Linked DNA regions of Homo sapiens. The protein of the gene in region 1 purifies or fractionates together with the protein of each later gene. This does not show direct contact. Each region holds a gene or a part of one and is shown on either strand. Other genes may lie near its edges. The genes, in order: SLC11A2, EXD2, SLC25A17, CACNA2D1, RDH10, CPT1A and CYP20A1.

Evidence for each region.
Region 2: the proteins of SLC11A2 (region 1) and EXD2 purify together in Homo sapiens (affinity purification with mass spectrometry; one large-scale study listed by BioGRID and IntAct). This does not show direct contact.
Region 3: the proteins of SLC11A2 (region 1) and SLC25A17 purify together in Homo sapiens (affinity purification with mass spectrometry; one large-scale study listed by BioGRID and IntAct). This does not show direct contact.
Region 4: the proteins of SLC11A2 (region 1) and CACNA2D1 purify together in Homo sapiens (affinity purification with mass spectrometry; one large-scale study listed by BioGRID and IntAct). This does not show direct contact.
Region 5: the proteins of SLC11A2 (region 1) and RDH10 purify together in Homo sapiens (affinity purification with mass spectrometry; one large-scale study listed by BioGRID and IntAct). This does not show direct contact.
Region 6: the proteins of SLC11A2 (region 1) and CPT1A purify together in Homo sapiens (affinity purification with mass spectrometry; one large-scale study listed by BioGRID and IntAct). This does not show direct contact.
Region 7: the proteins of SLC11A2 (region 1) and CYP20A1 purify together in Homo sapiens (affinity purification with mass spectrometry; one large-scale study listed by BioGRID and IntAct). This does not show direct contact.

The regions. Positions count from the first base shown.
Region 1 is NC_000012.12:50,998,885-51,002,384, forward strand, and holds part of SLC11A2 (natural resistance-associated macrophage protein 2), read right to left. Parts: intron 1,536-3,500; coding exon 1,429-1,535; intron 532-1,428; coding exon 461-531; intron 358-460; coding exon 290-357; intron 1-289. UniProt on the Homo sapiens protein: Proton-coupled metal ion symporter operating with a proton to metal ion stoichiometry of 1:1. Selectively transports various divalent metal cations, in decreasing affinity: Cd(2+) > Fe(2+) > Co(2+), Mn(2+) >> Zn(2+), Ni(2+), VO(2+).
Region 2 is NC_000014.9:69,197,998-69,201,497, forward strand, and holds part of EXD2 (exonuclease 3'-5' domain-containing protein 2), read left to right. Parts: intron 1-3,500. UniProt on the Homo sapiens protein: Exonuclease that has both 3'-5' exoribonuclease and exodeoxyribonuclease activities, depending on the divalent metal cation used as cofactor.
Region 3 is NC_000022.11:40,791,847-40,795,346, forward strand, and holds part of SLC25A17 (peroxisomal membrane protein PMP34), read right to left. Parts: intron 2,735-3,500; coding exon 2,668-2,734; intron 831-2,667; coding exon 679-830; intron 1-678.
Region 4 is NC_000007.14:81,968,278-81,971,777, forward strand, and holds part of CACNA2D1 (voltage-dependent calcium channel subunit alpha-2/delta-1 isoform 1 preproprotein), read right to left. Parts: coding exon 3,500-3,500; intron 2,461-3,499; coding exon 2,398-2,460; intron 1,708-2,397; coding exon 1,604-1,707; intron 697-1,603; coding exon 610-696; intron 1-609. UniProt on the Homo sapiens protein: The alpha-2/delta subunit of voltage-dependent calcium channels regulates calcium current density and activation/inactivation kinetics of the calcium channel. Plays an important role in excitation-contraction coupling.
Region 5 is NC_000008.11:73,301,102-73,304,601, reverse strand, and holds part of RDH10 (retinol dehydrogenase 10), read right to left. Parts: intron 1-3,500. UniProt on the Homo sapiens protein: Retinol dehydrogenase with a clear preference for NADP. Converts all-trans-retinol to all-trans-retinal. Has no detectable activity towards 11-cis-retinol, 9-cis-retinol and 13-cis-retinol.
Region 6 is NC_000011.10:68,768,917-68,772,416, reverse strand, and holds part of CPT1A (carnitine O-palmitoyltransferase 1, liver isoform), read left to right. Parts: intron 1-3,500. UniProt on the Homo sapiens protein: Catalyzes the transfer of the acyl group of long-chain fatty acid-CoA conjugates onto carnitine, an essential step for the mitochondrial uptake of long-chain fatty acids and their subsequent beta-oxidation in the mitochondrion.
Region 7 is NC_000002.12:203,301,518-203,305,017, reverse strand, and holds part of CYP20A1 (cytochrome P450 20A1), read right to left. Parts: 3' UTR 1-3,500.

The DNA.
Region 1 (3,500 bases):
GCTGTTCTGTTGTCAGATGGTCAACTTGGGACCAAAGAATCTAGTCTGGAAAGCCCTAAAATATCTAGTCATTTTAAACCTGGGAGCCCCTGCAGGCCTTTCTGCATGCTAATCTTTGCTATAGATCATATTCCTTTAAAATTGGCCCAGGGAAAAATTGGCTTTTTGTTGATACACCCACTATAAGTGAATCATACTAGCATTATTACTGTCTTTTATAATAAAAGGCTAAAAAAAAAAACCACAAAAACTTATTTTAAGAAGCTAATGAATATCCTGTACCACTTGCCTCATATCCAAATGTGAGGGCCATAATAGTGATGAGAAAGCCAAAAAATGCTTCTAGCTTCCGCAAGCCTAAAGGAAAAAAGGCAGCAGTGAGCTCAGAGAAGGTAGACTTCCCCATCTGCCACATGACAGAGAGCAGCTCCTTTGACCCTCCCATTCCCGCTCTCCTTACCATATTTGTCCAAGAAGAGAAATACAAAAGTATCTGCAATGGTGATGAGAACGCCACCCCACAGAGGAATTCTAGGTCAGAGATGAGATATGGAAGTCAGAGAGACGGAAAGAAAGGAAACATTGAAAAACACTCTCTTCCCAACAGCTCTCCAGATAAAGAACACTTGGAGAAGCTAGGACTTGAGGGAGGAGGGACAATGGCAGAAAACTAGGCCTTGGGTAAAGTAGGGTAACAGCATCAACTTAATTACATTCATTTAAACTTTGAGAGTCTACTATGTCACTCTTAGGATACAAAGCTGAAAAGTTTGGGTCTTACCCTCATGGAGTTAGACAGATAGAATTTTATAGGATTAGATAGATAGTATCTAGTGGGGGCTGGGTGTAGTGGCTCACGCCTGTAATACCAGCACTTTGGGAGGCTGAGGCGGGCATTCCTAGACCTGAGGTCAGGAGTTAGAGACCAGCCTGGCCAACATGGTGAAATCCCGTCTCTACTAAAAACACAAAAATTAGCTGGACATGGTGGCAGGTGCCTGTAATCCCAGCTACTCAGGAGACTGAGGCACAAGAATTGCTTGAACCTGGGAGGCGGAGGTTGCAGTGAGCCAAGATCATACCACTGCACTCCAGCCTGGGTGACGGAGAAAGACTCTGTCTCAAAAAAATAAATAAATAAAATAAAATAAAAAGATAGTATCTAGCGGGATAAAATGACATACAAATCAATAATTGCGATACAAAACGCCACACATTCTAATAAAGGTAAGCATAACCCACCATGGGAAACGGAAGATGTAGAGTCTACATCTACCAGGGGAGAAGAAATTGTTTCCAGAAAGGTTCCACAGAAGAAATAACAATTGAGTTGAGTCTTCAAAATTAAAAATGAATTGGGTTTTTGTTTTTATCTCTGCTTGGAAATCCAGCAAAACACTGATGACTTTCTAGAGGAAAACCCCTCACCTTCCTACAGACAGAAGATTGATAGCAATGGCTGAGCCAATGACTTCTTGCATGTCTGAGCCGATGATAGCCAACTCCACCATCAGCCACAGGATGACTCGTGGGACCTAAACATCAAACAGTAGAAAGACACGGTTCTGATTAATCATTTCTAAAAAATTCCTCCACAATTTGGAATTCACATTTTGGCACTAAACCATAAACAGTCCTTTATAAGCCTCCAGACTAGAGAAGAAATACCAGAACGTGCCTCCACTTGGCCGATCACTGCACTGTGGCTCTCACCTGGAGAAGGAAAAGTGTGCTACCACGTGGCAGAACCTGTGAACGAAGGTCAAGGCAGTAATTGATCTTACTTTTTTCTTTTTCCTTTCTACTTGAGAAGAATATAATTGCCATTTACTAACTTCCACTTAATTTCCTAAAAACAATCCTAAAAAGTTTAGAGGAGAATAAGGATGCTAATACGGTCCAAATATGGGTCAAGAAAGAATATTAAATGATTGCAGAAGAACATATCTATCCTGACCATAGCTGGGAAGACAAAACAAACATGAAAAGGTTGGGGTCAGGCTGGGCGCGGTGGCTCACACCTGTAATCCCAGCACTTTGGGAGGCTGAGGCAGGTGGATCACCTGAGGACAGGGTTCAAGATCAGCCTGGCCAACATGGCGAAACCCCGTCTCTACTAAAAATACAAAAATTAGCTGGGCATGGTGGCACATGCCTGTAATCCCAGCTACTCAGGGGGCTGAGGCAGGAGAATTGCTTGAACCCGGGAGGCGAAGGTTGCAGTGAGCTGAGATTGCGCCACTGCACTCCAGCCTGGACAACAAAGCGAGACTCCATCTCAAAAAAAAAAAAAAAAGGTTGGGGTGGACCAGGCACAGTGGCTCATTCCTGTAATCTCAGCACTTTGGGATGCCAACGTAGATCCCTTAAGCCCAGGAGTTTGAGACCAGCCTGGGCAACATGGCAAAACCCCATCTCTACAAAAAGTATAAAAATTGGGAGCAAAATGATAAGAACTTATGAACACACAGACAGAAACAACAGACACTGGGGTCTACTTGATGGGGGAGGGTGGAAGGAGAGAGAGAAGCAGAAAAGTTAACTATTGTGTATTGGGCTTAATATCGGGGTGATGTAATAATATGTACAACAAACCCCCATGACACGTGTTTATCTATGTAACAAACCTTCACATGTGACTGCTCTGCCTACGGAATAGCCTTTCTTTATTCCTTTACGTTCTTAATAAACTTGCTTTCACAAAAAAAAAAAAAAAAAGAAAGAAAGAAAGAAAAAACCTTCACATGTATCCATCTCCAAACCTAAAATAAAAATTATAGGAAAAAAAAAAAGTACAAAAGTATCCAGGCATGATGGCATACACCTGTAGTCCCAACTACTTGGGAGGCTGAGGCAGGAGGACAGCCTAAGCCCCAGTGGTCAAGGCTGCAGTGAGCTATGATCATGCCACTGCACTCCAGAGTGGGCAACAAACAAGAGCAAGACTGTCTCAACAAACCACCACCACAACAACAGAAAAGGTTGGAGTCACCTTTAATGTAATAATAATGCCCACGTATGCAAAAGGACTCAAGGGAAGATGGTTGGAACTGGGTGGCATATAACAAAGTCAGAAACTTATCTGGCCAAACAATACAGCTGAAAATCAGATTTAGTTATGCTGACTCACTGAAGCCAGAAAAAAACACCTCCAGATAGCTAGCATCCAAAAAATTTGTCAGGTCACCCATGGTAGTTCACACCTATAATCCCTGAACTTTGGGAGGCAGAGGTGGGAGGATTACTTGAGCCCAGGAGTTCAAGCCCAGCCTTGGCAACATGGCAAAACCCTGTCTCTACAAAAAATTTTAAAAATAGCTGGGTATCATGGTGCACACCTGTGGTCCCAACTATTCAAGAGACAGAGGTAGGAAGGCTGCTTGCGCCTGGGAGGTCAAGGGTATAGTGAGCCATGATTGTGCCACTGAACTCTAGTCTGGGTAATAGAGCAAGATCCTATCTCAAAAAAACAGGCCAGGCACAGTATCTCACATCTGTAA
Region 2 (3,500 bases), on another chromosome or scaffold:
CATCTCCACTCTTCTGGTCTTCTTCTAGATCTTCACTAAAGTTTTCTGTTCCTCTTTGTATTGATCTGACACATTTCTTGTTGAATTCTTTCCTAGACTTGTGTATGTGATTATGTGGTTTTTTTATGTAGTTTTAAAATAGTATACAGGTATATTGCTATTATGAATGAGATTTCTTTTTTCACATTTTTATAATAGGTTTGGAAAGCTATTGATTTTATACTCATCAGACTTTCTGAATTACCATATAATTTCTAAAAGTTGGTTGATGACTTTGTTGTTTTTCCAGGTGGTTGTGATGCAGTCATTCTGTTCAGGAGCTGTGGTTCTTTTTCATTCTACATTCCTCTGCCATAATTCGAGTATTCTTTGCCTCTCCGCTCTGCTTTATGAGCTTCTAACAGGTCTCTCTGCCTACGGCCTTGCTCTCCTCCAGGCTAGCACCCACATTAGTACCATGGTGGTCTCATCCTGTCACTCTCCTTATAAGTCTGTTATTTGCTCTCCAGTGTCCTGTAGGATAATGATGGCCCCTCATGACTTGTCCTGTATCTACTCATTCCAGCATCATCTCTATTTCCTTACTTGCACATTATATTTTAGCACAGTAGTGTCCATTAGAAGTAGAATGTGAGCCCCAATTTAAAATTTTCTAGTAGCCACATTAAAGATATAAAAAGAAACAAGGTGAACTGTAGTAATGGCATCACTTAATGAGGATCTGTTCTGTGAAATGTGTCATTTTGTGAACACGATAGAGCACACTTACACGAACCTAGATGGAATAGCTGACTACACACCTAGGCTGTATGGTATAGCTTATTACTCCTAGGCTATAGACCTATATGGCATGTTATTGTACTGAGTCCTGTAGGCAGTTGTAACACAGTGGTAAGTATTTGTGTATCTAAACATACCTAAACATAAAAGTACAGTAAAAATGTGGTATAAAAGCTAAACAGTGGGCCGGGCATGGAGGCTCACGCCTATAATCCCAGTACTTTGGGAGGCTGAGGCGGGCAGATCACCTGAGGTCAGGAGTTCGAGACCAGCCTGGCCAACATGGTGAAACCCCGTCTCTACTAAAAATTTAAAAAATAGTCTTGTGTGGTGGCACACGCCTGTAGCCCCGGCTACTCAGGAGGCTGAGGCAGGAGAATCGCTTGAACTTGGGAGGCAGAGTTTGCAGTGAGCCGAGATCACGCCACTGCACACCAGCCTGGGCAACAGAGTGAGACTCCGTCTCAAGAAAAGATAAATAGTGTTACACTTATGTAGGGTATCTACCATGCATGGAGCTTGCAGGACTGGAAGTTGCTCTGGGTGAACCTGTGAGTGAGTGGTGGGTGAATGTGAAGGCTTAGGACGTGACTGTACACTACTTTAGATCTTATAAACACGTGTGTATTTAGGCTACACTCAAATTATTTAAAATTTTTTTGGAATAATAAGTTAACCTTAGTTTACTATAACTTTTTTATTTTATAAACTTTTTAATTGTTTTAACTTTTTGACTTGTAATAACACTCAGCTTAAGACACAAATATGTTGTACAGCTGTATAAAAATGTTTATCTCTTTATAAGCTCTTTTCAACTTAAAATTTTTTTTTTTTTACCTTTTTAAACTTTTTTGTTAAAAACTAAGACACAAACACATACATTCATGTTAGCTTAGACATACACAGAGTCAGGATCATCAATATCACTGTCTTCCACCTCCACATCTTGTCCCACTGGAAAGTCTTCAGGGGCAATAACAGGCATGGAGCTGTATCTATGATAACAATGCCTTCTGGAATAACTTCGGAAGGAGCTGCCTGAGGTTGCTTTACAGTTAATTTTTTTTATAAGTAGAAGGAGTACACCGTAAAATAAAAAATATGGTAAATAAATAAACCAGTAACATAGTCGTTTATTGTCGTTATCAGGTATGTGCTATACATAATTGCATGTGCTATACTTTTATACGACTGGCTGTGCTGTAGGTTCGTTAACTCCAGCATAATTACACACATTTGTGAGTAACGCATTGTGCAGCAACGTTAGGACGGTTAGGATGGCTATGATGTCACTAGGCAATAGGAATTTTTCTGCACCATTGTAATCTTATAATTTTGTAGAACTATTGTATGTGTCATCTGTTGTTGACCGAAACATTGTTATACAGCACATGACTATATTGAACCCAGTATATTCCAAGCATTATTTCAACATAAATATTAAAAAATCAATATGGAATTCATAGTGATAGAAGGTATAATAGGGCTTATCAGGGGTTAGAAGAGAATGGGAATTCTTGTTGAATTACAGTTTCTATTTGCAAGGATGAAGTTGTTCTGGAAATGGGTGATGGTGATGGTTGCACAGCAGTGTGAATGTACTTATTGTCATTGAATTGTACACTTAAAAATGGCTAAAATGGGCCAGGCGTGGTGGCTCAGGCCTGTAATCCCAGCACTTTGGGAGGCCGAGTCTAGGGGATCGCTTGAGCTCACGAATCTGAGACCAGCCCGGGCAACATTGTGAAACCCCATCTCTACAAAAATAATACAAAAAAAAAATTACCCAGGCATCGTGGGGACTACCTGTAGTCCCAGCTACTTGGGAGGCTAAGATGGGAGGATGGCTTGAGCTCAGGAGGTGGAGGTTGCAGTGAGCCAAGATCGCGCCACTGCACTCCAGCCTTTGCGATAGAGCCAGACCTTGTCTCCAAAAAAAAAAAGGCTAAAATGGTAAATGTTATGTTATATATATTTTACCACGATAAAGAAGTCACCATAAAAATCAGTATGAGGCCAGGCGTGGTGGCTCACGCCTGTAATCTCAGCACTTTGGGAGGCCGAGGTGGGTGGATCACCTGAGGTCAGGAGTTCGAGACCAGCCTGGCCAACATGGTAAAACCCCGTGTCTACTAAAAATACAAAAATTAACCGGGTGTGGTGGCGGGCATCTGTAGTCCTAGCTACTTGGGAGGCTGAGGCAGGAGAATTGCTTGAACTCGGGAGGCAGAAGTTGCAGTGAGCTGAGATCGTGCCATTGCACTCCAGCCGGAGTGACAAGAGCAAAACTCCATCTCAAAAAAAAAAAATCAGTATGGAAATTATAAAAAGTTTACATCCTTTTTTTGTAGTAAGTATTCAAAAATTTGGTGTATATTTTACATGTATAATACATCTTACGTTGGTTTTTTTTGTTTGTTTTTGTTTTTGTGATGGAGTCTTACTCTGTCCCCCAGGCTGGAGTGCAGTGTTATGATCTCAGCTCACTGCAACCTCCGCCTCCTGGGTTCAAGTGATTCTCATGTCTCAGCCTCCTGAGTAACTGGGACTACAAGCACATGCCACAATGCCTGGCTAATTTTTGAATTTTTATTAAAGATGGGGTTTCACCATGCTGACTAGGCCGGTCTCAAACTCCTGATCTCAGGTGATCCTCCCACCTTGGCCTCCCAAACTACTGGGATTACAGGCATGAGCCACTGTGCCCACCTACATTTTAC
Region 3 (3,500 bases), on another chromosome or scaffold:
AACAGAATTCCAAATGATCCAGCAATCCCACTTCTGGGTATATATCCAGAAGAATGGAAAGCAGGCTCTCAAAGAGAGAGCTACACATCCATTTTCATAGCACTATTCACAACAGCCAAAAGATGGAAGCAACTTAAGTGCCTATTAACAGATGAATGGATAAACAGAATGTGATATATACATATAATGGAATATTATTCAGTCATAAAAAAGTAAGGAAGTCATGTCACATGCTGTATGGCATGGATGAAAGTAGAAGACATTATACTAAGTGAAGTAAGCCAGTCACAAAAAAAACAAGTAGTGTATGATTCGACTTATATCAAGTATCTAAAGTAGTCAAATTCTTAGAAACCGAAAGTAGAATGGTGGTTACTAAGGGGCTCAGGGAAAGGGAAAAGGGGAGTTTAATGAGAATAGAATCAGGTCTGCAATATGCAAAAGTACTGGAGATTTGTTTCATAACATTGTGAACATGTTTAACACTACTGACCTTACACTTAAAATTAACATGGTAAATTTTATGTCACGTTTTTTAACACAATTAAAAAAAAAAAAACCAAGTTGGAAAACTGGCTATATTCTTTGTAAGCATTACTTTGGGCTAAATAACCTCTTAGAGGATATAAAACCACAAGGTAAATATAAAAACATTTTATACCCAGAAAACCTTGTTACCTGCAACAAACCCAACTACCAGATCTTTTCCAGTGGTAGAATGTTGACCTTTGACCCAGAGTGCTTTGAGGCTATTAAAAGTGTAGAAATAGACAAAATTGGAGCAGCAGAGACTGGAAATCACTGGAAACCACCCTCGATATGGTGCCAGGCTAGGGGAAAAACACAATAAGCAAAGTAAAGGTCATGGACAAATTAGAAATTGGCAGAGAAATCCTAGGAAAGGCTGACCATCATTCACATGGTCTCAAGCTTCACTCCTACACGAATACAAGGGACTCCAAACTGTACACACACCTCACATTCTGAAGGATGTCCAAATCAAGAAATCTATTCTAGCACTAATGATACCAAAGAAACAACACAAAGTCTGATTGATTTATTAATTCCCTCCCTTAATTTTCTTTAGTAACATTGGTATATAAAATTAGAGACAACTTCCTCATGGCTGTTAGTTAATAGAGTACCATTCATGTTTTATTACAGGGCAAGAACAGTTAAAATGAAGTAATTATAGGAAATAAGTATCAAAAAAAAAAAAGATGGGGGAATTCACAAGGGCACAGGAGCTCACAGGAGCTCCTACAGGCCAAATCTGGGGCAATTTGAATACCAAAATAATGAAGTACAGTAATCAATTGTAAACCATTGAAAAATAGACATTTCTGAGCCTATACCAATAATAAGTAGATAAATAAATGAAGGAGAAGGGGAGGTCCTGCTTATAGCAGAATGCCAACATTGGTACCTGTAGAGGCAATGCTGGAGTTGGAAAGTCGTCATTTTGCAACTTCGTGGTAAATTTAGGGGAAAAATGTTGATAAAGCACAGGATATTTGTATTGTTTTGAAGTATCTCCACATAGACTGCTTATAGTTGCAAGGGAAGAAAAAAGTAATTGCACAGTGGCTAAATCAAATTTAAGAAATCATAATTAGCCAACCAAAGGCAGGCAGACAATATGTGAGTCAAGATGTGATATCTTGAGAAGGACACAATATCACCTGTGCATTATTCAGGCCAATAATGTATAACCTCAATGGAATCATGAGGAAATGTGAGGCAAACTTAAAAATGAGAAACTTTCTATTTTCTTTTTTTTTTTGAAACGGAGTTTTGCTCTTGTTGCCCAGGCTGGAGTGCAATGGCGCGATCTCGGCTCACCGCAACCTCCACCTCCTGGGTTCACGTGATTCTCCTGCTTCAGCCTCCTTAGTAGCTGGGATTGTAGGCATGCGCTACCACGCCCGGCTAATTTTGTATTTTTAGTAAAGACGGGGTTTCTCCATGTTGGTCAGGCTGTCTCGAACTCCTGACCTCAGGTGATCCGCCTGCCTCGGCCTCCCAAAGTGCTAGGATTACAGGCGGACTGTATTGTTTAAAAGTGTCAGTGTCATGGGGCTAAAAGGCTTTGATGTATGTAACTTACTCTCAAATAATTCAGAGGAAATTTGTGTGTGGTGTGTGTAAGGAGAGAAGGGAGGTGGGAGAGAGACAGCATGAGCAAAAATAGTAAAACAAACAGGAAAAGATGTTAACAGATGAATCTGGGTAAAGCATATACTTGTCTTCTTTGTACTAAGTTTAGTTTTGCAAATTTTTGTAAATTTAAAATTATTTCCAATAAAAAGCTAAAACAAGAAGTACATAATCTGTCTTAATGCACCTGACAGGAATGAACTAAACAACTATTATTTTTTTTTCAGTTTACTGTATATAAAACAATGCATTTTAGTTTCATGGAAGACTCCATGATCAAGAATCAAATGGCTTAAGGTAAGCATTGTACAAAAATAAATAAAAAGAATCAAATGCCTCACTACAGATCTTTAAGAAACTGAAAACAATTATGTACTTATAAATCAGGCAATTCCAAATTCACAACATTAGAGTGCTGTGAGAAAGATAGAAAGTAAGCATAACTCTACTGGAAGCACAGGAATCTCCTAACAAGTTGCTTTAACGAAGGTGAACTGAGGTAGTACTCACAGTCCTTCTTCTTTAATGATCTCCAGGAGCACCATGTGTGTAGTTTTGGATTTTCTTTTCTCATCAACTACAAGACCAAACAGTGCATGTTTATTTTATTAATTAAAAAAAAAATTTTTTTTTTGAGACAGAGTCTCACTCTGTCGCCCAGGCTGGAGTGCAGTGGCGTGATCTCAGCTCACTGCAACCTCCACCTCCTGGGTTCAAGCGATTCTCCTGTTGCAGCCTCCCAAGTAGCTGGGATTACAGGTGCACACCACCATGCCCAGCTAATTTTTGTATTTTAGTAGAGGCGGGGTTTCGCAATTTTGGCCAGGCTGGTCTTGAACTCCTGACCTCAAGTGATCTGCCCACCTCGGCCTCCCAAAGTGCTGGGATTATAGGCATGAGCCACCGTGCCCCGCCTATTTTTTAATATTTTTAGAGACGGAGTCTCACTATGTTACCCAGGCTGGTCTCAAACTTGTGGGCTCAAGGGATCCTCATGCCTCAGCCTCCCAAAGTGCTGGGATTACAGGCGTGAGCCACCATACCCGGCCCGTGTATGTTTAAACTAAATCCTTTGAGGATTATAATTGTTAACATCAGCAAGTTTCACTGAAATGCCATTTACCTCACCTTTGAGCTCCCTAGGTTGCCCCAGAACTAAATGATGCCCCTGTGTGACCATGTGCTAAATTCCCACTGCAGATCCCTTGCCCTTCATCTGTTACTCATGAACCATAAAGCAGTCTAATTTAATTCCTAATTTCCAAAGGAAAAGACGACAGAAAACATTTCTTCCTTTTTTTTTTTTTGAGACGGAGTCTCGCTCTGTCACCCAGGCTGGAGTG
Region 4 (3,500 bases), on another chromosome or scaffold:
TAATAGCTTTTACTTTATTGTATTCACTCACTCTAGCCCACTTCCGATCCTCATTAATGCTCACTTTTACTATGTTTGTTTACTTGCCTATTTTTCCAAAAAGTCATTTTTCTATATATTTTATAGCAAGTTTTTAACTGAGCCCTACCTAATTCACTTTAACAGACGCCTACTAGAATATAGTATAAATATGCCATATTTATCTTTTCCCTCAGGGCTGGAAACTTAACTTTTTTGTACAAATATGTAACTCCTTGGCCATATAACTTTGTACGTATTTTAAAGTATTAAGAGAGACTTCTGGAGGTGGGTTGCTAATCCAACATTAAAAATTTTGATTATTATACTAAATTGATTCCATCAATTTGTGTCAGAGTATAAACATACACACTGTTTTGAAAATTCCTCAAATCTATGTAGTATCAATTTGATTTTATCCCAACTTCAGAGGTAACTAGTCATATTTTATTTAATTTTTTTAAGTGTGCATGCCTTTATTTTGTTTGACACCTTTTGATGACCTTCTTGATAAACATTGCCAGTTTATAATATAAATGCCAAGTAACATTTAATTTTGATTGTGTTTTTGTATTTAATATTTATCCTTACCTGCAGGTTTAAGAAGTTTCCCTTGAATATATATTTCTACAGCTTTGCTTACCATAATGCCCGATTCATAGGCACCAGGTCCACTTTCTAAAAAAAAAATAAATAAATAAAACACCTATCAAGATATATTGAATAATAATATTGATTTTCCGTCATTAGATACAAATGGATAGTATTTTGCTTAAAAATTCTAGCATCTACAAACTATAAAATGTTTGTGCTCTCCTTCCTCTCTTCTTCCGTTGTATACACTAGGCTAACTGGTATATCCATGAATTGGTTTGTATTAATTGATTCGGGGACATTAATTAGCTTGGTTGCATCTGCTTTCACAACATAATGAATACATGCCAAATCTCTACTTCACAACATTTGTTAAAATATTAAGTAGTTCTGCTGAAGTGAAGTGGAAAGATTGATCCTGGATGCATAAAACTGACTTTGTCTTTTATAAGACGTATGTCACTGGGCAAAACTTTGAAATTCTCTGAACTTGTTTCCCCATTTAGGAAAATGAAGGTAAATACTACCTATGTGCAAAGATGTTCAGGGATTAAATTACAAGGTTTTTGGGAAATAAGTCAATAAAATATTTTAAAAGATAAGCTATTATTAATTGTATAATTATATTTTATAATACTGATAAAATGTAATTAATCAATGGAATTACTCTATTTAATTCCTTAAATGTTTTTCAATACATTTTCAGTTGTAATATGAGGGATTATCTACATGTGTTTCTATTTCTTATGCATGCCTAACAGATATGCTATCTCTAAATTACTGGAAGACTGTTTGCTGTGTATGCATTTTGCTTCTTCAACTAAATGATGTTTCTTTTCTATTTTCCTAATGCCTTGCAAATACTCTATTTTTAATGATGACTATTCTGAGTAGTTAACATAAAATGTAGTGATTTGGGGGGAGAGCAGATAGTAGCAGTAATTTATTATTTAAAAAATTGAGAAAAGCTGAATTCCAAAGCAATACTTACTGTTAAAGTAGGGAGCAGTGAAAACATAGTTATCATTATCTAGGCTCCTTTTATAGAAGCTGTCCTCATATGTCTCTGGGTTTTCTTGCCAATTTTCTCCAGCCCTAAGGAGGAAATGGCTCATCATTTGTATTCTTTAATCTACCTGATAACCTACTTTATCCTATGTGGACTTGCTGAGCTTTACAGATACGCCTACATCTCAGGTATGTCTAAAGAAGTTAGTGGTAATTGATAGCATAACTGATACTCATTACTGAGCAATGCATCAGCATAGCACTAAATTAAGAATCAGAAAAAGCTAACTCCTAGTTTTACTCCGTTGTTTACTAGTCAGGTAACAGGACAAGTAAGTTAATAGGTCAATTAATGTTAGTAAGCATTGGTGCCTACTCAGCCTACTTCATGGACTGTTACGAAGATAATAGAGATAAGATGCATCAAAGAAGAGTGAAAGATAATAAAGTGCTACATAAATATTGCTGATTGGTTATAATCATTGTGTTCATTTCACTGGTTTAGCTTGTATCTACAAAGAGAAAAATCTCTTTAAACGTCTCTTAAATGTTGTAATAAACATATTTGGCAAGCAAAAACATCATTGAAGAATTTTATAATGTCATTTTTCAGAGAAATAAAATCTTTTAATAATGTAAATACTGTAAACAATGGCTCCAATGTAATCTAATGGCAATCAGTTTATTTGAAGAATGGCTTCCTTAAGCAGTAATGTACAAATCCTTGGCGCAGTCTTTTGTAATGTACTTGTTTTTACAGATGTTATTTGAACTTACTCTTTGGGATAAACTCTGGTAATCCCACCATCAGTCACAACAAATCGTGCTTTCACTCCCTTGCTGAAACAGAAGACAAAACAAGGAAATGTTCTATTGAACATATTCTAAAAAACAAAGTTAGGTGTTGGTGATACAAAGAGAAGTAAGTTTAGGAAGTAAAGGAAATATATCAATAGATACACAACTATGTTTTAATAATTTAAATATCTATTAAATTTGTACTTGAAGGATGTTTAAGGAAGACATCTCATAGGAAATAATGACTGAGGTGCATTTTGAACATGGAGTATGAATTGACAGCAATGACACAGAAAGCAGGAAGGTATCACTTGTAGAGAGGAATGTATACATAAGGGAAAGCTACCAGAGATGGCTGGTGTTTGGTATAGAAAAAAAACGTAAGACAAAAGGAGAGAAACAGTAAGAAGTAAAGTTTCAAGTGCAAGTTCCTCAATGGTCAGCTAATGAATGATTTTGAATTCCATCTTAGAGAGCTTCACCTGTATCTTGAACTTAGAACTGCATTTTAGGAGTTAGATTCTGGCCAATATGAGTTGTATGGAGAATTGTCTAGAAGCTGCATGTGGAGGAATGGAGAACACTAAAGGCAGAAAAATCAGTTGCTGTGATTTCTTAGAAATGGGATCTTAGGGCCTTCATTATGAGGTAGAGAAGAAAACATTGCTAGGAGAAATATTTAGCATTTAGTGACTGAAAATGGGGTGGAGAAGAGATTTTAAATAAGAATCATACTCAGATTTTCTCAACTGGATGTATGGTAATGCTATTAGAAACCCAAATAAACACTGACTAGAAATCCTACTTTAGCACAAACAGAAACACACAATCATGCCCATTTAATTTGGTGTATTCACCCTGAAGTGTATGTGCATGAAAAGTTGAGTAATAGCAGACATTAGTACTGAAAAACACCCACAACTGAAAATGCAAGTTGTCAACAACTGTATAGTGATTTTCTTGAGAAATATTAAACATTATTAATGAACTGTAAATTTATGAGATTCATACCCAATTTCCACAGGAGAAACTAAATTGAAATGCAGAATACATATTTTTATTAATAAGAACAAATACTTACA
Region 5 (3,500 bases), on another chromosome or scaffold:
TGACCTGGAAAAGCAGGTGGAAATCAGCTTTGGAAGGCCCAGGATGCCATGCTAATGAGCCTGGACTTCACGCTGTGAGCAATATGGTCATACAAGTGTTTTAAGCAGGCAGATAACAAACTCAAGGCTGCTTAGATGACCCTAGGTTGGAAAGCCAAAAGCGAATACAGGAAAAGAAGATCAGAGGCACTTTCAAGAGTCCAGGCAAGAGGTGATGGAGGCACACAGGATGAAGTAGGAAAGGAAAGGGGCGATCAATCAAAGCACAGGGGCACAAGCAAATAGTCAGGATTTGGGGACCCATGAATGTACGCAGGCTGGAGAGGTGAAGATAATGCTGATGTTTCTAAGCCTGGTGACCAGGGAATGCAAGAAGGAGCAAAGAGGAGTTTGTTCAGTTTTGTGACATGCTGCTTTAAGAGAATGTGTGGCGCAGTCAAGGTAGTTGAAGGCAGACAGAGAAGCACGACAAAGTGGGCTTATCATGGAAGCTAAAGCACTTGAGTTTCAAGGAGACGGTCAAGAGGGTCACATTCTGTAGAAAGATGAAGCTGCACACTGGATTTGGCAATGAGGGGAGCATTGCTGTTTTTTTCATTTAGGTTAGAAATTATGACATTGGTTATTTAGCAGTTATTTTTTAAACAACTGAGAAAAACAGACACAGATTAGAACATATTGAAGATGTTGGAGAACTTTTTATCTGATGCAGCGTCTGGTTCCCTATTCACACCAGCTATGTAAAGTGATATTTTATCATGTCATAGATTTTGATTTCTAGTAGCAACAGATTTGGGCCCAGCATGTAATGTATCAAATACAGAAACTCAAAGTTCAATGAGCATGTGATCCTATTTGGTGTATATAGGTATTCAGTCCCAGGTACCAAGCAGTTCCTATCAAAAGAGATGTTTTACTCAGTTTTCAACTGTGACTACAAGAATAAGATAAAATTGACCCCAGGTCAATTTACAACTCTGTTTAAGACATTGAAAGTACTTCTAAAGTTCAAACATTTTTATACATATGACATATATTTAATAACAGAAACCAGTTCTACTGGAGACTTCTAAAAATAGGCCATGAATTCCAAGTGTTTAGTAGCTATCTTAAGATAGGAAATCAATATTCTCTATAAACTAATTAGTCTTACAGTTATTATGGTAAGGAGAAATACTGGCCAAATATTTTTATGAATACTTTAGAAATGATTTTTGAAATTCTAAATGTAAGAAACCTTGAACAAAACTAGTTTCTGTAACCAGAGAACACAGGAATGCAGTATGTGAGATTAAAAACCAGTAAATCACATAAGAACCTAAACATTAATGATTAGGGACCATTTATGAGATATTAGGTACAACTGCAGCACTAATGTCTTTAAGTGCTACATTACTCAGATCTAGCTGGTGGGCTTTTACTTTTCCTGGATAGATTTTAACTAAATAGACTTTAGACATTTGGATATAGATAAATGCTTAATTCAGTAATTAGTATTTTAAAACTGTGAAACCTTTTAAGTTAAGTGGTCTATTAATTAACTACCAATTATCTTGTCTGACTACCATATCAATAGAAGTAAATTACCTACTAGCTATTTGACAGATTTAGTCCTTTACCATGCAAAAATTCTTCAGAATATAAAAGGCCTGGAGTTAAATGCTTTTGCTTCCCCCTTTTGGTTAATCAGGGATCAATTTGCTGCTCACGTATAAAGGCCAAATGCAGCTCTTCGGTTAAAAAGGATCTACAGATAAACTTTGGCTTTTAGAAATAGCAAGCTAAGATTCTACTTCTCTTAAAAAATAACAAGTAAAGCAATGTTAGTACTTTGAGGAAAACATGGGTTTGCATGGAGACCAACTTTCCATATTTCAAAGTAGAATACAGAGAGATATTTTTCTTTTCCTTTTTTTGAGACAGAGTCTGGCTCTCGTCACCCAAGCTGGAGTGCAGTGTTGCGATCTCAGCTCATTGCAGTCTACAACCCCTGGGCTCAAGCCAGCCTCCTGCCTCAGCCTCCTGAGGAGCTGGGACTACAGGCACGTGCCACCACGCCCAGCTAATTTTTGTATTTTGGTAGAGACAGGGTTTCGCCATGTTGCCAACGCTGGTCTTGAACTCCTGGGTTCAAGCAATCCACCCTCCTCGGCCTCCCAAAGTGTTGGGATTACAGGCTTGAGTCACTGCACCCCGCCCAAGAGAGGTATCTTTCAAGTTTTTACATCTCACCCAGATACAAACAGCCCACATGAATAATTTCTATGCTAGTGTTAAAGTGCATGATAGTGCATTCATTTTCCATGGTCTTGTACTGGGTGTTTCACAGTAGATTATGCTGACTAGAACCTACCCCAAATCTATCACTAAGTCTTGACTGGTGACCAGGAGAAGGTTCCTAGGAGAGCTACTGGTGATGGAACAACATTGGAAGATGAAGCGTCACAGCAGACTGGAAGGCTGTACAGAATTATGCCAGGCTGAGGAAAGGCTTCCAAAGGGTACAGAAATGGTACATGGTTAAGAGGGAAGGAAAGAATTGCCAAGGGGGTCCTCTTTTTGAGGACTGATCATTGGTAAATATGAATGGCTGTTACACATTCATTGTGAGCTTCATTCAAACTGGCATACCAACACCAGCCTTATCAAGTCACTAGCCTCACACCAATGAGCAGAGTTCTAACACAAAATAGTAAAAATCAGAACACATGTGGGACAGGGAGAATGGAAAGTTATGTAGGAAAGCAAAAGAAAATATGAGTGACAACAAGGGTGAGACAGCCCTGGTTTGCAATAATGGTCTTACACAGCTTTAGTCCAACATAATGCTCACCTTTTTCTTTCTTGAGATGGAGTATTGTTCTGTCACCCAGGCTGGAGTGCAGTGGCGCCATGTCTGCTCACTGCAACTTCGGCCTCCCGGGTTCAAACAATTCTCCTGCCTCAGCCTCCTGAGTAGCTGGGATTACAGGCTAGCACCACCACGGCTACTTTTTTTGTATTTTTAGTAGAGACAGGGTTTCTCCATGTTGACCAGGCTGGTCTCGAACTCCTGACATCAAGTGATCCGCCTGCCTTGGCCTTCCAAAGTGCTGGGATTACAGGTGTGAGCCACCGTGCCCAGCCCATAATGCTTACCTTTTAAAACTTCAGAACATAGACCCATGTGAGTATTCTCTGAATAGGTTATCTTCTAAATATTTAAGCCTATTATTATCAAATATTTATTGAGTGACTTAAGAATAGAGTTTTGGCCGGGCGCGGTGGCTCACGCCTGTAATCCCAGCACTTTGGGAGGCCGAGGCGGGCGGATCACGAGGTCAGGAGATCGAGACCATCCTGGCTAACACGGTGAAACCCCGTCTCTACTAAAAATACAAAAAATTAGCCAGGCGTGGTAGCGGGCGCCTGTAGTCCCAGCTACTCGGGAGGCTGAGGCAGGAGAATGGCGTGAACCTGGGAGGCGGAGCTTGCAGTGAGCCGAGATCGCGCCACTGCAC
Region 6 (3,500 bases), on another chromosome or scaffold:
TGGTTTCTGGGGGCAGCACAAGTCATCGTGGCATTGGCTTGAGATATTCCCAACTTTTTTTTTGAGACAGAATCTCACTCTTGTTACCCAGGCTGGAGTGTAATGGCATGATCTCGGCTCACTGCAACCTCCACCTCCCGGGTTCAAGCAGTTCTCCTGCCTCAGCCTCCCGAGTAGCTGGGATTACAGGTGTGCGCCCCCATGCCCAGCTAATTTTTTGTATTTTTAGTAGAGATGGGGTTTCACCATGTTGAGCAGGCTGGTCTCGAGCTCCTGGCTTCAGGTGATCCACCCGCCTTGGCCTCCCAAAGTGCTGGGATTATAGGCGTGAGCCACCGTGCCCAGCCTTGTATTAAAACTTGAGTGCTGTACACATATGCAGCGTGTGGCACTGCCCCCCCAACCTTGGTAACGATTGTGCCATTGTTGAATTTTGCTTGGTGCATCATGTACCTCATGCTTCACTGTCTCTGCACCTGGGAGGCACTCTTGTTATCCCATTTTTAAAAATTTACAAGTCCCCATTATGCCTCAGAAAATCTTGTTTTCCCATTTTACAGGTGAGGAAACAGGTGCAGAGAGGCCAGGTGCTTGCCAGGGTGGCACTAGGCAGGGATAAAGCGGGCCAGCGGCTCCAGAGTCTATGCTCTCTCCACCTAAAGTTAAGAAAACAGTTACAGAGAAGTAAGAGGCAGTGTTAATATCAGATGAACTGGAATGAATGGGCCAAAATCGTATTTAAAATGCATGCTAATACAGTCTGTAAAGACTGTCACAGTTATGAAGCCTTGCTTTCCCAAGTAACATGCTCACTATGCGTAAACCAGAAGCAGCTGGGCAGAGTACCAGGAGCACAGTGACAAGCTCCTGTCTGTGACAGATCATTGACTAAAGATCATGTGATTAAAAGGTGACATGGAATAGAGGCATCGCATCTCAGAATCAGTGAGCTGGATTTTGAGAATTGATGAGCAGATTTTGCCCGTAAACGTGCAGTATGAGGGCATGCAAGCAGTTGATACCTTACCTACAGAAAGGATGTTATTTTATCTTTTTAAATTTTTTTCTTTTTTAAAAGAATTCCCTGCAAGTAAGCGCAGGACTTAGGAGTTTAGTAAGGAAATGCCACGCTCCAGTTTAGTACATTTTGAAACATGCTGAAATGACTATTCTGCAAGCAGTACAAATTGGTGACGTTGACTCAAGGTAGAAAACCTGAAAAGGCCTCTGGTCCAGGGACCAAAGTGAGAGGTTGTCAGGGAGCCACCCTTGTGACTCCAAAGAGCTTGCAGCTCAGAGACTCCACAAAGGAAGCCACCCCATCTGCTCCCCAGAACCCACGTGGCCCAGGTGTGGGAATGAGCTGCAAGGGGCACCAGCCACTGTGCCATGTACTTGGCAGGAGCGAGCGAAACTTCAGGACGGCCCCGAGGAAGGCATCTCTTCATCTCTGCCCTCCACACTCGGAGGTGAAGCATCTTGCCTGAGGGCTCCAGCTCGTACGCAGCAGGACTGAGATCGGAAGCAGGCAGGCTTGTTCGAGAACCTGTGGCTCTCATCACTGTGCTGCAGCTAAACGCAGAAAAAGGAAGCACAGACCAGCTTCCCGCATGAATGGAAGTGCAGAGACCCTCCATAAAATCTTAGCAACTAGAATCCAGCACTGTAGGAAAAGAATAGTCACCCACAGTGGCGTACACCAGCGGTGAGAGGCTGGTTTTGTGTCAGTAAATCCAGTCATACACTAAACCATACTGTTGGGTCAGAGAAGAGCCTAGATAGTGAGTTTCACAGATCCTAAGAAGACGTTTCACGTTTAACATCCATTCCTGATAAGAGCTCTTGGTCAAGGGGCTTAGTAATAGGGCTCTTTCCTTAACAGGATAAGTGGCATCGTGTATTAATAGCTAGCTACTGCTTCAAAGTAAAAGTGTGGGAGGCAGTCCCCTTAAAACAAGAAAGATGAGGATGCCTCTAGCAGATGACAGGGTAATTGGGCAGGAAGAACATTTATGTCTGTTCAGGAGATGGAACAGCAGAAAGGCTTTGACGATTAAGAGGCACACCCAGTGAGCCGGCCCAGCGCAGAGTTGCACAAAGACCACCAGCTTTCTTGCACAAGGATGATGGCCAAGTGGGAAATATAATAAGAGAATGTAATAGAAACGAGAATCTGGGGCCCCACCTTCCAGGCATACGTGTATAAAGCAGACTGGACTCTGGGAAGAAGGCCGAGGAGCACTCGCCCCCCAACTCCTCCCCAGGGAGAGGGAGAAAAAGCCATGATTTTGGATGAAAAAAAACTTCAGAACCATAGAGGAAGGGATGTTCCCAGTTCACACTGTTTTTTTTTTTTTGAGACGGAGCCTTACTCTGTTGCCCAGGCTGGAGTGCAGTGGCACGATCTCGGCTCACTGCAGCCTCGGCTGCTCACTCGGCTCCCAGGTTCAAGTGATTCTCCTGCCTCAGCCCCTCGAGTAGCTGAAACTACAGGTGCCTGCCACCACACCTGGCTAATTTTTGTATCTTTAGTAGAGACGGAGTTTCACCACGTTGGCCAGGCTGGTCTCGAGCTCCTGACCTCAAGTGATCCGCCTGCCTCAGCCTCCCAAAGTGCTGGGATTACAAGCCTGAGCCACCATGCCTGGCTTAGTTCACACATTTAATATGAACACAGTGAGAGGTCAGGCAGGGGCTTCAGGAGAGGAGCTTGCCCAGTTGATCTTGAGGCTTGAAAAGGCTAACATTTGAGAGTCACCTGTAACATTTTTGAAAAGAAAAGCAATCAGGCGGAGGCAGGACACGGGGAGGTGGACATGTACTTTTTCAAATCCTAAAACTTAAAGTGTAGGAGTTAGAAGACTGTTGTGATTAAAGTGGTCTCAGTCCTATAATCCTAGCACTTTGGGTGGCTGAGGCAGGTGGATCACTTGAGTCCAGGAGTTTGAGACCAGACTGGGCAATATGGGGAGACTCTATCTGTACAAAAAATACAAAAAAAAAAAAAAAAAAATTAGCCCAGCATGGTGGCGCATGCCTGTAGTCCAAGGTACTCCGGAGGCTAAGGTGGGAGGATCACTTGAGCCCCGGAGGTGGAGGCTGCAGTGAGCCGTGATCGTGCCACTGCACTACAGCCTGGATGACAGTGAGACCCTATCTTTAAAAAAATTGTTTTTAATAAAAATAAAATGCTGCAGTCCTCGTACAAAAGCAGGCCTGGGAAATAACGTGTAATGGAGGGAGCATTTGACATCAGTAGGGGACGGGGAGCTGGTGAGTAAATGGAGCTGGGAAATCTGGCTAAGTGGTTGCCTTTGGAAAAAAATAATCCAAGAGAAATAAGGAGTCAGACCAGAAACTGTGGTTCACAAGAGAGGAAAAATACGGTCAATGAGTGTAGGTAATAAGCTTAATCTTACCAAGAATCTAACAAGTACAACTTAAACAAGACTAGATTTTTGCCTACGGGGTTGGTAAAGGCTTTTTTTCATGTTGGTGAG
Region 7 (3,500 bases), on another chromosome or scaffold:
TCCCTTTAAAAAAGCCTATTCCCTGAAGCTCTTACAAAAATGAAGTAATAAAGGTATATGTTTAACATGTATTTATTTATTTATTTGAGGGTTGTGCTTTGTCACCTAGGCTGGAGTGCAGTGGCATGATCATGGCTCACTGCAACCTCTACCTCCTGGGCTCAAGCAATCCTCCCACCTCAGCCTCCTGAGTAGTTGGGACTACAGGTGTGCGCCAGCACACCTGGCTAATTTTTGTATTTTTTGTAGAGATGCAGTTTCGCCATGTTGCCTAGGCTAGTCTCAAACACCTGGACTCACCCAATAAGCCTGACTTGGCCTCTCCAAGTGTTGGGATTACAGGCATGAGCCACCACACCCAGCTGGAAAATGTTTAAAATTTATTAAGTGAAAAGTAACTCATGCTGCAATGAACGTACTATGTAAAAATGTATGTATGTGGAACAGGGAAAAATATAAACAGTCACAGAAATGTGTTTAGGTTGGTAGCATTCTTTTTCCTCTTAAAAATTCCTTTTTTTGGCCGGGCGCTGTGGCTCACACCTGTAATCCCAGCACTTTGGGAAGCCGCGGTGGACAGATCACAAGGTCAGGAGATCAAGACCATCCTGGCTAACATGGTGAAACCCCGTCTCTACTAAAAATACAAAAAATTAGCTGGGCATGGAGGCACTCGCCTGTAGTCGCAGCTACTCGGGAGGCTGAGGCAGGAGAATCGCTTGAACTGGGGAGATGGAGGTTGTAGTGAGCCCAGATCATGCCACTGCACTCAAGCCTGGGCTGAGACCTCCAGAGTCTGGCTGAGACCTATGGAGTCTCACTCTGTCACCTAGGCTGGAGTACAGTGGTGCGATCTCGGCACACTGCAACCTCCACCTCCCAGACATTCTCCTGCCTCAGCCTCTCAACTAGCTGGGATTACATTCGCCCGCCTCCACACCCACTAATTTTTGTATTTTTAGTAGAGATGCGGTTTCCCCATGTTGGCCAGGCTGTTCTTGAACTCCTGACCTCAAGTTATACGCCCACTTTGGACTCCCAAAGTGCTGGGATTACAGGTGTGAGCCACGGCACCAGCCAAAAATTTCTTTAAATATTAGTGGTATATTATTCTCTCAATAAGTTTTTTTTTTTTTTTTTTTTGAGACAGTCTTGTTTTATTGCCTAAGCTGGAGTGCAGTGGCACAATCTCAACTCACTGCAACCTCCACCTCCCAGGTTTATTTTTTTTCTCATGCCTCAGCCTCCCAAGAAGCTGGGATTACAGGCATGTGCCCCAAAGGCCAGTTAAGTTTTCTTTTTCTTTTTTTCTTTTTTCTTGGTTGAGACGGATTTTCGCTCGTCACCCACACTGGAGTGCAATGGCGCGATCTCGGCTCACTGCAACCTCCGACTCTTGGGTTCAAGCGATTCTCCTGCCTCAGCCTCCCGAGTAGCTGGGATTAGAGGCACCTGTCACCACGCCCGCTACTTTTGGTATTTTTAGTAGAGATGGAGTTTCACCACGTTGGCCAGGCTGATCTCAAACTCCTGGCCTCAAGTGATTCACCTGCCTTGGCCTCCCAAAGTGCTGGAATTACAGGCCCGGCCTATTTTTGCAATAATTATGAATAGCACACCATTTAAACCTGTTGATTGAGCCCTCCTTAAATAACTAAATACACTACTGGCCAACATGGTGAAAACCTGTCTCCACTAAAAACACAAAAAAATGGCCGGGCACAGTGGCTCATGCCTGTAATCCCAGCACTTCAGGAGGCCAAGGGGTGTGAATCACCTGAGGTTAGGAGTTCAAGACCAGCCTGGCCAACATGGTGAAACCCTGTCTCTACTAAAAAAAAATACAAAAATTAGCTGAGTGTAGTGGCACATACCCGTAGTCTCAGCTACTCAGGAGGCTGAGGCAGGAGAATTGCTTGAACCTGGGAGGCAGGGGTTGCAGTGAGCCAAGATCGTGCCACCACACTCCAGCCTGGGTGACACAGCGAGACTCCATCTCAAAATAAATAAATAAATAAAAAGAAAGGGACCGAGCGCGGTGGCTCATGCTTGTAATCCCAGCACTCTGGGAGGCTGAGTTGGGCAGATCACAAGGTCAAGAGTTCAGGACCAGCCTGACCAACACGGTAAAACCCCATCTCTACTAAAAATACAAAAATGAGCTGGGTGTGATGGCACGCGCCTGTAACCCCAGTTACTCAAAAGGCTGAGGCAAGAGAATCGCTTGAACCTGGGAGGCAGAGGTTGCAGTGAGCCGAGATCACGCCACTGCATTCCAGCCTGGTGACAGTGAGACTCTGTCACACACACACAAAAAAGATAAAGAATGACAAAAATCTGTGCCTACATTCAGAGTGACAAGAATACTAATGTTCTGCTTGTAGAAAAGACTATTGGTTCAGAATATGTTAAATGCAAATAATATTTTGTATAATATATATAAATTACATATGCATAAAAAGAGTATCTATATTAGAATCTTTTGAGACAGGGTCTTGCTCTGTCAACCATGAGGGAGTGCAGTGGCACTACCACAGCTCACTGTAGCCTTGACTTCCTGAGCTCAAGCCATCCTCTCGCCTCAGCCTCCTGAATAGTTGGGACTGCAGGTGGTGCCACCAAGGCTGGCTAAGTTTTTATATTTTTTTATAGAAACAAGCTTTTGCCACGTTGCCCAGGCTGGTCTCAAACTTCTAAAAGCTCAAGCAATCTGGCCGCCTTGAACTCCCAAAGTGCTTGAGTTATAGGCATGAGTCACTGTGCCCGGCCTACATTAGAATCTTAACAGTGGGGCTGGGCATGGTGCCCCATGCCTGTAATCCCAGCACTTTGGGAGGTCAAGGTGGGCAGACTACTTGAGGTTGAGGAGTTCGAGGCCAGCCTGGCCAACATGGTGAAACCCCATCTGTACTAAAAACACAAAAATTAGCCAGGTGTGGTGGCACATGTTTGCAATCCCAGCTACTTGGGAGGCTGAGGCGGGAGGATCACTTGAACCTGGGAAGCAGAGGTTGCAGTGAGCCGAGATGGTGCCATGGCACTCCAGCCTGGGCAATAGACAGCGGGACTCAGTCTCAAAACAAAAAAAAAAAAAAAAAAAAAAGAATCTTAACAGTGGTTAACTTCAAATAGTGAAACTATGACTGTTAACTGAGTTTGACATTTTTGTGTTTTCCTAGATTTTTCTACAATAAACATTATTATTTCATAATAAAGCAGTAAAGACTTTTTATACAAACTATTTTAAGATAAACAAATTTTGACATAGGGGTTATAAGTTAGGTAGAATCTATTTATATAAAAAATGGAACTGTACTTTTGTGGGCCAAATAAGCACTATGTAAGTTTTTTTAATTTTCCCAAACACATGCACAGAATTAATATTGCCTTAAATTTTGTTAGCACAAGTTTGAGAGAGCTCTTTAGTTCATAAAAAAATGTTTTATGGACCAGGTGCCGTGGCTCACACCTGCAATCTCAACACTTTGGGAGGCCCAGGT